Regions from separate parts of the Homo sapiens genome. Here region 2 is linked to region 1. The links come from fine-mapping of genetic effects on gene expression. A gene starts in region 1. The other region holds a variant in brackets. All regions are shown on one strand. Distances are between the middles of the regions. Region 1 holds the start of RNASEH2C (ribonuclease H2 subunit C). Region 2 overlaps POLA2 (DNA polymerase alpha 2, accessory subunit).

The links. PIP is the estimated chance that this variant, and not a neighbour inherited with it, causes the effect. A credible set is the group of variants that fine-mapping cannot tell apart.
Region 2: its variant is the best candidate, but not a certain one, in a credible set for the expression of RNASEH2C in whole blood (Lepik 2017, PIP 0.55).

What each region holds. Positions count from the first base shown.
Region 1 is chr11:65,718,876-65,724,174 of GRCh38, reverse strand. It overlaps RNASEH2C (ribonuclease H2 subunit C), which reads left to right and starts at 3,377. Exons shown (of 4, transcript NM_032193.4): 1 at 3,377-3,588; 2 at 3,758-3,933; 3 at 4,011-4,130; 4 at 4,366-5,299. The coding sequence starts at 3,417. The coding sequence ends at 4,392. It overlaps KAT5 (lysine acetyltransferase 5), which reads right to left. Exons shown (of 13, transcript NM_182710.3): 12 at 5,221-5,299; 13 at 4,571-5,128. The coding sequence ends at 4,994. RefSeq lists an enhancer at 3,232-3,301 and a silencer at 3,452-3,691.
Region 2 is chr11:65,282,913-65,288,217 of GRCh38, reverse strand. It overlaps POLA2 (DNA polymerase alpha 2, accessory subunit), which reads right to left. Exons shown (of 18, transcript NM_002689.4): 11 at 378-502. Among named protein-coding and RNA genes, the nearest start is that of POLA2, 24 kb to the right of the region's middle. The variant G/A (reference allele first, on the strand shown) is at 3,087.

The DNA of each region.
Region 1 (5,299 bases):
AGGTTGAGCTGAGTGAGCCAAGATCGCGCCACCGCGCTCCAGCCTGGGCTACCAGGTGAGACTCTGTCCCAAAAATATGTGTGTGTGTGTGTGTGTGTGCGCGTACACACGCGTTTTAACCTCTAATGAATTAAAGGATCTAGGCAATGATCATCTATGGCTGCTAACCTCACAAAAAGAGGGAAAAACACAAAACCACCCATGAAGTAGTCTTGCCCTCTCCCCTCCCCAAAGAATCGAATTAAGCTTCTAGATGTAATTACAGAAAATACAGGTATAGATTACCTTGACACTATAGGAATGCAATTACTAATATCCAGACTACAGGAAACTTGCAAAACCAAAAACATAAAAATAAAAAATAAGATCCAACATCTACTCCCAATTTTTAAAAGCTCTTAGTAGTACAGCTTTAATGAGACATATATAACAAGTCAAAAGGCAGTTTCATGATTATTGGTGAAACAGCAGAAGCACTCCCGTGAAAGTTTCAGGAAAAAGACAATGTTGTCCTCTGATACCAGTAACATTTGAGAGACTGTTCTGCAAGTACTGGCCAAGGCAATTAGAAAAGAAAACAAATTACAAGGTGTAATGAAAAAAAAAAAACAAAAAACAAAAAACAAAAAGAAGATGTAATGGTGAGGTAAAAATTATTATTTGAAAGAGAGGTGACTAATTCTGGGGATCTTAAAATAAAATAAAAATCATTAGGAACAAAATAATTCAGTCGATATCTAGTTTAAAAATGGACATATAAAAATCAACAGGTTTGCTATAGACAAGGGGTCTGAAAACTATGGCCTGTGGTTCAAATCCAACCCCTTGTCTGTTTCTGCAAAGATTTACTGGAACACAACAACGCTCATTCATTTATGTATTGTCTATGACTGCTTTCATGCTATAACGGTGAAGTTGAGTAGCTGCGACAGAAGCCATAAAGTCCACAAAACCTAAAATATTTACTATTTGACCCCTTACAGAAAAAGTTTGCCAACCCCTGCTATAGATTAAAAAGAAAATCAGTTAGAAAATAAAATGAAAAAAATAAAAGCCCCAATTTTGGTTTTTAGAGAAAGGGTCTCCCTCCGTAACCCAGGCTGGTGTGCAGTGGTGCAATCGTGACTCGAACGGCAGCCTCAAACTCCTTGGCTTAAGTGATCTTCCCACCTTAGCTTCTTGAGTAGCTGGGACTACAGGCACATGCCACTGTGCCCCACTCATGTTTAAAAAAATTTTTTTCTTTGTAGGAACGGAGTCTTGCTATGTTTCCCAGGCCGGTCTCAAACTCCTGGCTTCAAGCAATCCTCCCCCATCTTGGCCTCCTAAAGCACTGGAATTACAGGTGTGAATCATCATGCCCAGCCCCTCAGTTCTTAATAGAAACAATTATTAATATAAGCTAAGAAGAAATAAACTTTACAATATGTATTAATAGCTATTATATATGAACAAAACCTCACAACTGTACAGATATCCAAGGAGATGTGAATAAATTGAATTATGTCTTTCCTGATAGAAAACTAAAGCAAGCCTTTTTCTAAATTAATCTGCCACTCTAGTGAAAGAGCACCAGGAATACATCTGCAGTTGAACAAATTGGGTATATTACTCCTGCACTCTGGGGAATTTCAATAAGAGGGTGCTAGAAAGGACTTATAGGAGGATTTGTGCCCATGTTCAGTGATTTCAGTCAGGGTTTAGGGAAGCCAGGCTTCTCTCTGGCTTGGATGCTGTCAGAGGTGGGGGTATGTCTATGACGGACTATCTTAATGAGTCTTGCCCAGAAGGAGAGAAGATTAGTTGGAGGCTAATGCTGTAATTGGTAAGGAAACAACAGTCACTCTCTTATGGGAGAAAGAGGGATGTTTCATGCCTTTTGTGGTTTGGACAGTGTTCACCTTTGCCAGCATTCAGATGTGACGATGGAGTGGTTCTGTTTCTGTCTTGCTCCCTCACGGTCACAGAGTGACCTTGTCCGATGCTGATGTTCTCTGAAATTGTTTATATTCAACAGAATACCAAGGCCAGCTCCCAGATGTGCAGGGATGTATAAATTAAACGCAATTTAAATCTAAATTTCCAGTTTTGTGTTTGTTTTATGTGAGAACTTGAAAAAATATATCTAAGTTGGGTGTCTGAACAAATAAACATTAGAGAAGAGCTGAGAAACCAAAGAGAGAAAATTGTGAAATCTAAAAGACTGAAAAGTGTTGATAAATTTGACTACAAAAAATTAGTCTTTGTCCTGGGTGCAGTGGCTCACGCCTGTAATTCCAGCGTGATTTGGGAGGCCAAGGTGGGCAGATCACTTGAGTCCAGGAGTTCAAGACCAGCCTGGGCAACATGGCAAAACTCCACCTCTACCAAAAATACAAAAATTAGCTGCGTGGTGGCGCAGGCCTGTGGTTCCAGCTACACAGGAAGCTGAGGATGGGGGATGGATTAAGCCTGGGAGGTCGAGGCTGCAGTGAGCCAATCAAACCACTGCACTCCAGCCTAGGCGAGTGAGACCTTGTCTAAAAGACCAAACAACCACAAAAATAAGTCCTTGTCCAGCAAAAATCACCTTTACACAGGTTTGCAAGACAGACCACAGATAAAACATTTTCAATGCATTTAAGAAAAGGGTTGATGTCCCTAATAAACTAAAAATGAATAACCTACCTACTAATCAATATAAAAAGAGTACTTTTCAGAATCGTTTTAGATTTTTACAACGACATGTGCCATTAAAAACAATAAAAGAAAAAAACCCGGCTGGGGGCGGTGTCTCACGCCTGTAATCCAAGTACTTCAGAAGGCCGAGGCTGGAGGATCGCCTGAGGTCAGGAGTTCGAGACCAGCCTGGCCAACATGGCGAAACCCAGTCTCTACTAAAAATACAAAAATTAGGTGGGCATGGTGGTGTGCGCCTGTAATCCCAGCTACTCCGGAGGCTGAGGCAGGAGAATCGCTTGAACCCGGGAGGCGGAGGTTGCAGTGAGCTGAGACCGTGCCTGGCACTCCAGCCTGGGCGACAAAACGAGACTCTGTCAAAAAAAAATAATAATAAATAAGAAAAAGAAAGAAAGAGGGAAGGACGGGAAGGAAGGGAAGGGAAGGGGGGAAGGAAGGGAGGCAGGGAGGAGGGGGAGGGGGGAGGGGGAAGGAGGGGGGAGGGGGAAGGAGAGGGGGAGAGGGGAGGGAGGAAAGAGGGGAGGGGGGAAGGAAGGAAGGAAAAAAACAAAACACAACTGGAAAACCCTAGGACTTGAACCCAGGGAAAGCGTTAGGGGGTAAGGGGACTACACTTCCCGTGAAGCTCCGCGGCGGCTTCCCGTGAGGCCCCGCGGAGGCTTCCTGAGAGGTCCTGCGCGCTTTCCGCGCCAGCTTCAGTGTCAGCTCGCGAGCCCTGGCGTCGCGTAGGAGGGAGGATGGAGAGCGGCGACGAAGCGGCCATCGAGAGGCACCGCGTCCACTTGCGCTCCGCCACATTGCGCGACGCCGTACCCGCCACACTGCATCTGCTGCCCTGCGAGGTTGCGGTGGACGGGCCCGCCCCGGTGGGGCGCTTCTTCACGCCCGCCATCCGCCAGGGCCCCGAGGGTGAGCCCTGCGGCCGGACTACGGCTCCCGGCAGCCCCCGCGCCGGCCTGCGCGCTTCTCATCGCCTGGGCTCCTGGGGATCGTGGTCCGTCCGGAGGTGGCGGGAGGGCAGCTCCGGGCTCGACCCAGCGTGGGTCCTGCCTGAGGCCCTTTGCGCCTCCCGCTCCAGGACTCGAAGTGTCGTTTCGGGGCCGCTGTCTACGGGGAGAGGAGGTGGCGGTGCCGCCTGGCCTCGTGGGATACGTGATGGTGACAGAAGAGAAGAAGGTGTCGATGGGGAAGCCAGACCCCTTGCGGGATTCCGGGACTGACGACCAAGAGGAGGAGCCGCTGGAGCGGGACTTCGTGAGCAAAGGGATAGGGTTGAAAGGGGGTGCGGGCGGGAGCTGTAGTCCCGATGCTGAGCCAGGCCCCTTCCCCAGGACCGCTTCATTGGAGCCACTGCCAACTTCAGCCGCTTCACCCTGTGGGGTCTGGAGACCATCCCTGGCCCGGATGCCAAAGTGCGTGGGGCCTTAACTTGGCCCAGCCTTGCGGCAGCGGTGAGTAGACGAGGAGTTCCGTCTTGCCCCCGGGTGGATGGGCTGGGGAGCACAATTGCGCAGACGGAGCCTGGAGGATTCTACTGGGTAGTGTGTGGGAAGCGTAGCTCCCTGACCACTCTTCCTAGCATGTCTAGAAGCGGTTATTCTGAACAGCTGGGTCCTTCCTCGGGTATGGGGGCCAGCTTGCCGCCCTGTCTTACAAGTCCAACAGTAGAGGCGACTCCTGTTGCAGATTCACGCACAGGTGCCCGAGGACTGAGAACCAGAGCTTGAAATTCAAAGCTGCGATCCCTTCACAGCAGTAAACCAGCTCTTTGGAACCGATTCCATCACCCCAATAAAGGAGCTCTTCACAGCACCTGTGAGTCTGGGCGCCTTAGAGCCCCTAAGCCAGCATGGGCCCTTTCCCCCTCCCCACCAAGAACTTTGCATGGCTCTGGCATATAGAAACAATTTATTGCCGGGGGCAATAGGGGTAAGAGAAGCCAGAAATTTTTGCAGCCAGCACCCACCCCACCCCCAACTTCTACTTTACAAAAGAAATTTTTACAATCACCAGCCCTCTGTACAGAGCTCCCCCATCCGGATCCCTTCTCACTGTACACAGCTGCCTGGCTCCCTCTGGTCCCTGCTTCAGAGGAGGCCTGGGCCTGTGGCCAGCTGACCTTGGAGTTGGTCTGAGCCCGGAGCTCGCCTTGGTGCTGGGCACCAGTGGGCCCCTGCCAGGCCTGTCCTCTCCTTTTTGAGCTGTCCTCAGCCCCATCTCCCTTAGAGTGCTTTGTGGGAGCTGCAGTGGGGGCGGGGTGGGCTATCAGCCCCAGTCCTGCTGCCGTCTTGGCACTGCAGTGGGCAGTGTCTGGTCACCACTTCCCCCTCTTGCTCCAGTCCTTGGGAGTGAAGTGCAGACACTTGGAGTCGATCCGCAGGAGCCGCTTGAGCATGGCCCGCTCATGGCCATCCACGATGTCCTCTGACAGTGTGAGGATGTACTGGCCCTGGGCAGAGGAGATGGGTTCAGCAGGTGGTCAGCCCACAGAGGACTGCACTCTGCATCCCACACACCTGTCTCCCCTGCCTGCCTCCCTACCTTGTAGTAGTTGATGAGATTGAGGTACTGCAGAGTGGAGATGACATCCTCCTTCTTGATGCTGGTGATTTCACTAATC
Region 2 (5,305 bases), 440 kb after region 1:
TCCTGCCTTAGCCTCCCAAGTAGCTGGGATTACAGGTGCCTGCCACCATGCCCAGCTAATTTTTTTGTATTTTTAGTAGAGATGGGGTTTCACCATGTTGGCCAGGCTGGCTTAGAACTCCTGCCCTCAAGTGATCCACACATCTCGGCCTCCCAAAGTGTTAGGATTACAGGCGTGAGCCACTGCGCCCGGCCAAAGTTGGGCTTTTAAATCTAGCAAAGGCCCATAGATATATATACCTCTCCAAAGATGTAGATTAAGAATGAAAAGATATTTTCTAAAAGGAGGAGGGACTGACATGCTTCCTAAAAATTTAGAACTTCATTAAAGCCATTTTCCAAGGCTGACTCCTCAGCTTTCCCACTGGTGCCTCTTACCAGGATGCAGACATCTGGCCGGTCATGGTTGATGACAGCAATCAGGTCAAGCAGGGGGTCATACGTGATGCTGTCAGATGTGGTGTATGGTCCACAGGCAACCAGGACCATGCTTTGCTCAAAGTCTAAGACAGAGGTTATAGGTCTTGATTAGAAGAGGACTAGTATTAGAATGGTGGGAGGAGAAAGGACAATGATGGGAAATGCCACAGGATTTAACTCATTGAGTCCTTTATGTGTGAAACTCTGGGGACCCAAGGTAAGGAAGACCTCATGTCCACCCTCCAAGAACACTCCACTAGGTGATAGAGACAGAGACAGGCAGGTACACGAATACCTAGAACATGCAGTAGAAACTTTATGAGCTGTGCACATGAAAGATTCGAGGAAAGTGGCAGTCAGGAAAGAATTTACCAAGGTGGAATTTGCTAACACGTTTGAGAATTTTTGGGGATCAAGGGCAAGGCAGGGTACAGGATAGCACTGAGACCTGAGTGTGCTCAGTGTTAGGAAATGTCTGGTCGTCCAGTGTGGCTGGAGAATGTGGGGTACTGAAGAGCCCAGAAAGACAGGCCGGGGAATGGGAGACTGGAACGGGAGACTCCAGGGTGATGGGGTGCAGGGGCCACCCATCACGCTTTGCCTTTTTCCTAACAGCAGCTGCTTTCCTTTTGGAGAATCAGCCCATCCCTCCACAAGGCAGTCTACATGGGGCTGTAAATTGGGTGCTCTGTCTTCCTCTAGCCAAGGGCAGGCACATGACCCAGAATGGCACAAGGCCATTCACACTCTCCTCCCAGGGTCTGCAATCTTGAGGTGAACGATCCAAGGAGAGAAAAAAGATTAGAGCTAACCTATTCCAGCTGAGGTGCCCAGATGAGACAGCTGGGGAATTCCTGCTACCTGGATGCTAGAGTTCCTGGGCTCTCATCTTGGTTCCAAGCCTCGGTTTCTAGCCACGTGTCCAGTCTGTGAGCTACCTGGATCTCCCCTAATAAATTCCTGCTTTCTTGTTAGTCTGAGCCAGTTTCTGTGGCTTACAACAACAAAATCCAAAGATCCCTGGCTTCTTAACATGCTGTTGTGTTAGTTTCCTATTGTTGCTATAACAAGTTATCACAAACTTAGTGCCTTAAAACAACACGAATTTGGCCAGGTGTGGTGGCTCAACGCCTGTAATTCCAGCACTTTGAGAGGCTAAGGCGGGAGGATCCCTTGAGCTCAGGAGGTCGAGACCAGCCTAGGCAACATAATGAAACCCTGTTTCTACAAAAAATACAAAAATTAGCTGGGCAGAGTGGTGCGTACCTCCTGAGCCTATAGTTCTAGTTACTTGAAGTGGGAGGATTGCTTGAGCCTGGGAGGTTGAGGCTGCAGTGAGCTGTGATCATGCCCACTGCACTCCAGTGAGACTGTCTCAAAAAAAAAGAAAAAAAAAAGCCCACGAATTTATTATATTACAGTTCCAGGGGTCAAAAATCCTAAACTGAAGGTGTGGGCAGGGCTGAGTTCCTCCTGTCTGGAGGTTCTAGAGAAGAATCCATTTCCTTGCCTTTTCCAGCTTTCAGAGGCCACCTGCATTCCCTGGTTCATGGCCCCACCTGCAGCGGCAAAGCCAGAAGCCTAAGATTTCTCTATTTTGAAATAAAATTTTTCTTTAGGCTTCCTCAAATCACAGCAGCCTAACATTTCTAAGCTCTGACTCTGATTCTCTTGCCATTCCTCTTATAAGGACCCTTGTGATTATAGTGGACCCACCTGGATAATCCAGGCTAATCCCCCATCTCAACAGCCTTAACTTAATCACACGGGCAAAGTCTCCTTTACCACAAATGGTAAAATATTCACAGGTTCCAGGGATTCCTGGGGCTGTGATTCAGTCTATCATGGTAATAATACCATGAACTGACAGAGCATTCAAGGTGAAGAGCAGGTTTCATGTGGTGGTGGGGTAGGGGACAAAGTTAAGTTTGGCTCTGAGAAGCCTACAGGAGATGTGAGCCCCAGTGTAAGCAGTGAGTCTCTGGAGGGCGAGGGCCATGTCTTATTCTGTATCTCCATGAGTGCCTCATTTAATTCCTTGTACAAAAGTTCATTAACAACCTGTTAAACTGTTTCCAAAGGCTTCTCTGGTACACAGCTCAGGCTCCTGGTATCTCAGCCAGGTTGATTTCATTACCTGAAGTTGACCTAATACCAGCATGCCACCCTTGCCCCCTATAAATTTGTATTTTCTTTTTTTTCTTTTTCTTTTTTTTTTTTTTTTGAGATAGGATCTCACTCTCACTCCTAGGCTGGAGTGCAGTAGTGGTATGATCATGGCTCATGGCAGCCTTGAACTCCTGGACTCAGGAGAGTGATCCTCCCACCTTAGCCTTCCAGGTTGCTGGGACTATAGGCACATGCCACCATGCCCACACCCAGCTAATTTTTTTTTTTGAGACAGAGTCTAGCTCTGTCGCCAGGCTGGAGTTCATTGGCGATCTCGGCTCACTGCAACTTCTACCTCCCAGGTTCAAGCGATTCTCCTGCCTCAGCCTCCTGAGTAACTGGGATTATAGGCACACGCTGCCAAGCCAAGCTAATTTTTGTATTTTTTAGTGGAGATGGGGTTTCAGCTTGTTGGCCAGAATGGTCTCTATCTCCTGACCGTGTGATCCGCCCACCTCGGCCTCCCAAAGTGCTGGGATTACAGGGGTGAACCACTGC[G/A]CCTGGCCTAATTTTTGTACTTTTTGTAGAGATGAGGTTTCACCATGTTGCCCAGGCTGCTCTCAAACTCCTGTGGTCAAGCAATCCTCCTGCGCCAGCATGAGCCACCACGCCCGGCCAAACTTGTGTTTTCTGATAAAATGTGCAATATCACAAGGTCCTAAATTTCACTCCTGATTCTAGGTCATCTCCAAGAATGGCTCTGGCCACTGTTACATGCATGGGGTGTTGACAACATGCTAGTATCAGTGATCTGGTTGCTAATCCTTAACAGTGCTCCACTGTGCTTACAAAAATGCCTTGAGGGTTGGGTGTGGTGACTCATGCCTGTAATCCCAGCATTTTGGGAGGCCGAGGCGGGCAGATCACCTGAGGTTGGGAGTTTGAGACCAGCCTGACCAACATGGAGAAACCCCATCTCTACTAAAAATACAAAAATTAGCCAGGCATTACAGGTGCATGCCTGTAATCCCAGCTACTTGGGAGGCTAAGGCAGGAGAATCGCTTGAACCCGGGAGGTGGAGGTTGCGGTGAGCCGAGATGGCGCCTTGCACTACAACCTGGGCAACGAGTGAAACTCTGTCTAAAAAAAAAAAAAAGAAAAAAAAAACAATGCCTTGAAATACAGAAATACATACATATATTTTTTTGAGACAGGGTCTCACTCTGACACCCAGGCTGGAGTGCAATGGCACAATCATGGCTCACTGCAGCCTTGACTTCCTGGGCTCAAGCAATCCTCCTACTTCAGCCTCGCAAGTAGTGGGGACTATACAGGTGTGCACAACCACACCAAGCTGATTTTTTTTGTTTTTATTTTTTGTAGAGATGCAGACCCACTATGTGCCGGGAGGCTAAACTTAAACTGGGCTCAAGCAATTCTCTCACCTTGGCCTCCCAAAGTGCTGGGTTACAGAAGTCAGCCATCACACCTGGCCACCTTGAAATAAATAAATTCTATCTATCTATCTATCTATCTATCTATCTATCTATCTATCTATCTAGTGTCTTACTCTTTCACCCATGCTGAAGTGCAGTGGCATGATCACGGCTTACTGTAGCCTTGACTTCCCAGGCTCAAGTGATCCCCGCACCTCAGCCTCCTGAGCAGCTGGGACCACAGGCACATGCCACCATGCCGAGCTAATTTTTTTTTTTTTTTTGTAGAGACAGGTTTTCGCCATATTGCCCAGGCTGGTCTCAAACTCCTGGGCTCAAGTGATCTTCCCACCTCAGCCCTGTGAAGTGCTGAAATTATGTTGAAATATTTAGAAGCAAAGTTTGTCAAACTTTCTTTTTGCCTTTCCACAACTAGATTAGTTACCACATAACACTAGGGTTTTAAAGAAATTCTTTTTGGCCGGGCATGGTGGCTCATGCCTGCAATCCCAGCACTTTGAGAGGCCAAGGCAGGCGGATCACAAGGTCAGGAGTTCAAGACCAGCCTGACCAACATGGTGAAACCCCATCACTATGGGGTTTTGTAAAAATACAAAAATTAGCCGGGTGTGGTGTACGCCTGTAATCCCAGCTACTTAGGAGGCTGAGGCAGGAGAATCACCTGAACCCGGGAGGCGGAGCTTGCAGTGAGCCAAGATCTTGCCACTGCACTCCAGCCTGGGGGGCAGAGCGAGACTCCATCTCAAAAAAAAAAAGGAAGTTATTTTTAAGTTTTCACTTTAGAACAAATTTAGAATTGTAGAGAAGTTATGAAGATAGTACAGAGTTCCTGTGTGTCTTTCACCAGTGGCCCCTAATCTTAACATGTTAGGTAACCATGAACATTTGTCAAAATTAAGGCATTAATGCTGGTATATCGCTGTTAACTAAATTCCTGGATTCTCGAGGTTGAGTGTTAGAGCCAGAAAAATAAAAAAGTAAATTCCTGGCTTTATTCAGATGTTGCTAGTTGTTCCACTGATGTTCCCGTTCTCTTCAAGGATCCAATCCAGGATGCCACATTATACTTTCAAAAAATTAATTAATTTTAATTTTTTTTAAGAGTCAGAGTCTCGCTCTGTCACACAGGCTGGAGTAAAATGGTGTTACCATAGCTCACTGCAACCTTGAACTCCTGGGCTTAGGCAATCCTCCTGTCTCAGCCTCTGATTAGCTAGGACTACAGGCATGCACCACAAGCCCAGCTAATATTTTTTTTAATTTTTAGTAGAGACAGGGTCTCCCTATGTTGCCCAGGCTAGTTTCCAACTCCTGGCCTC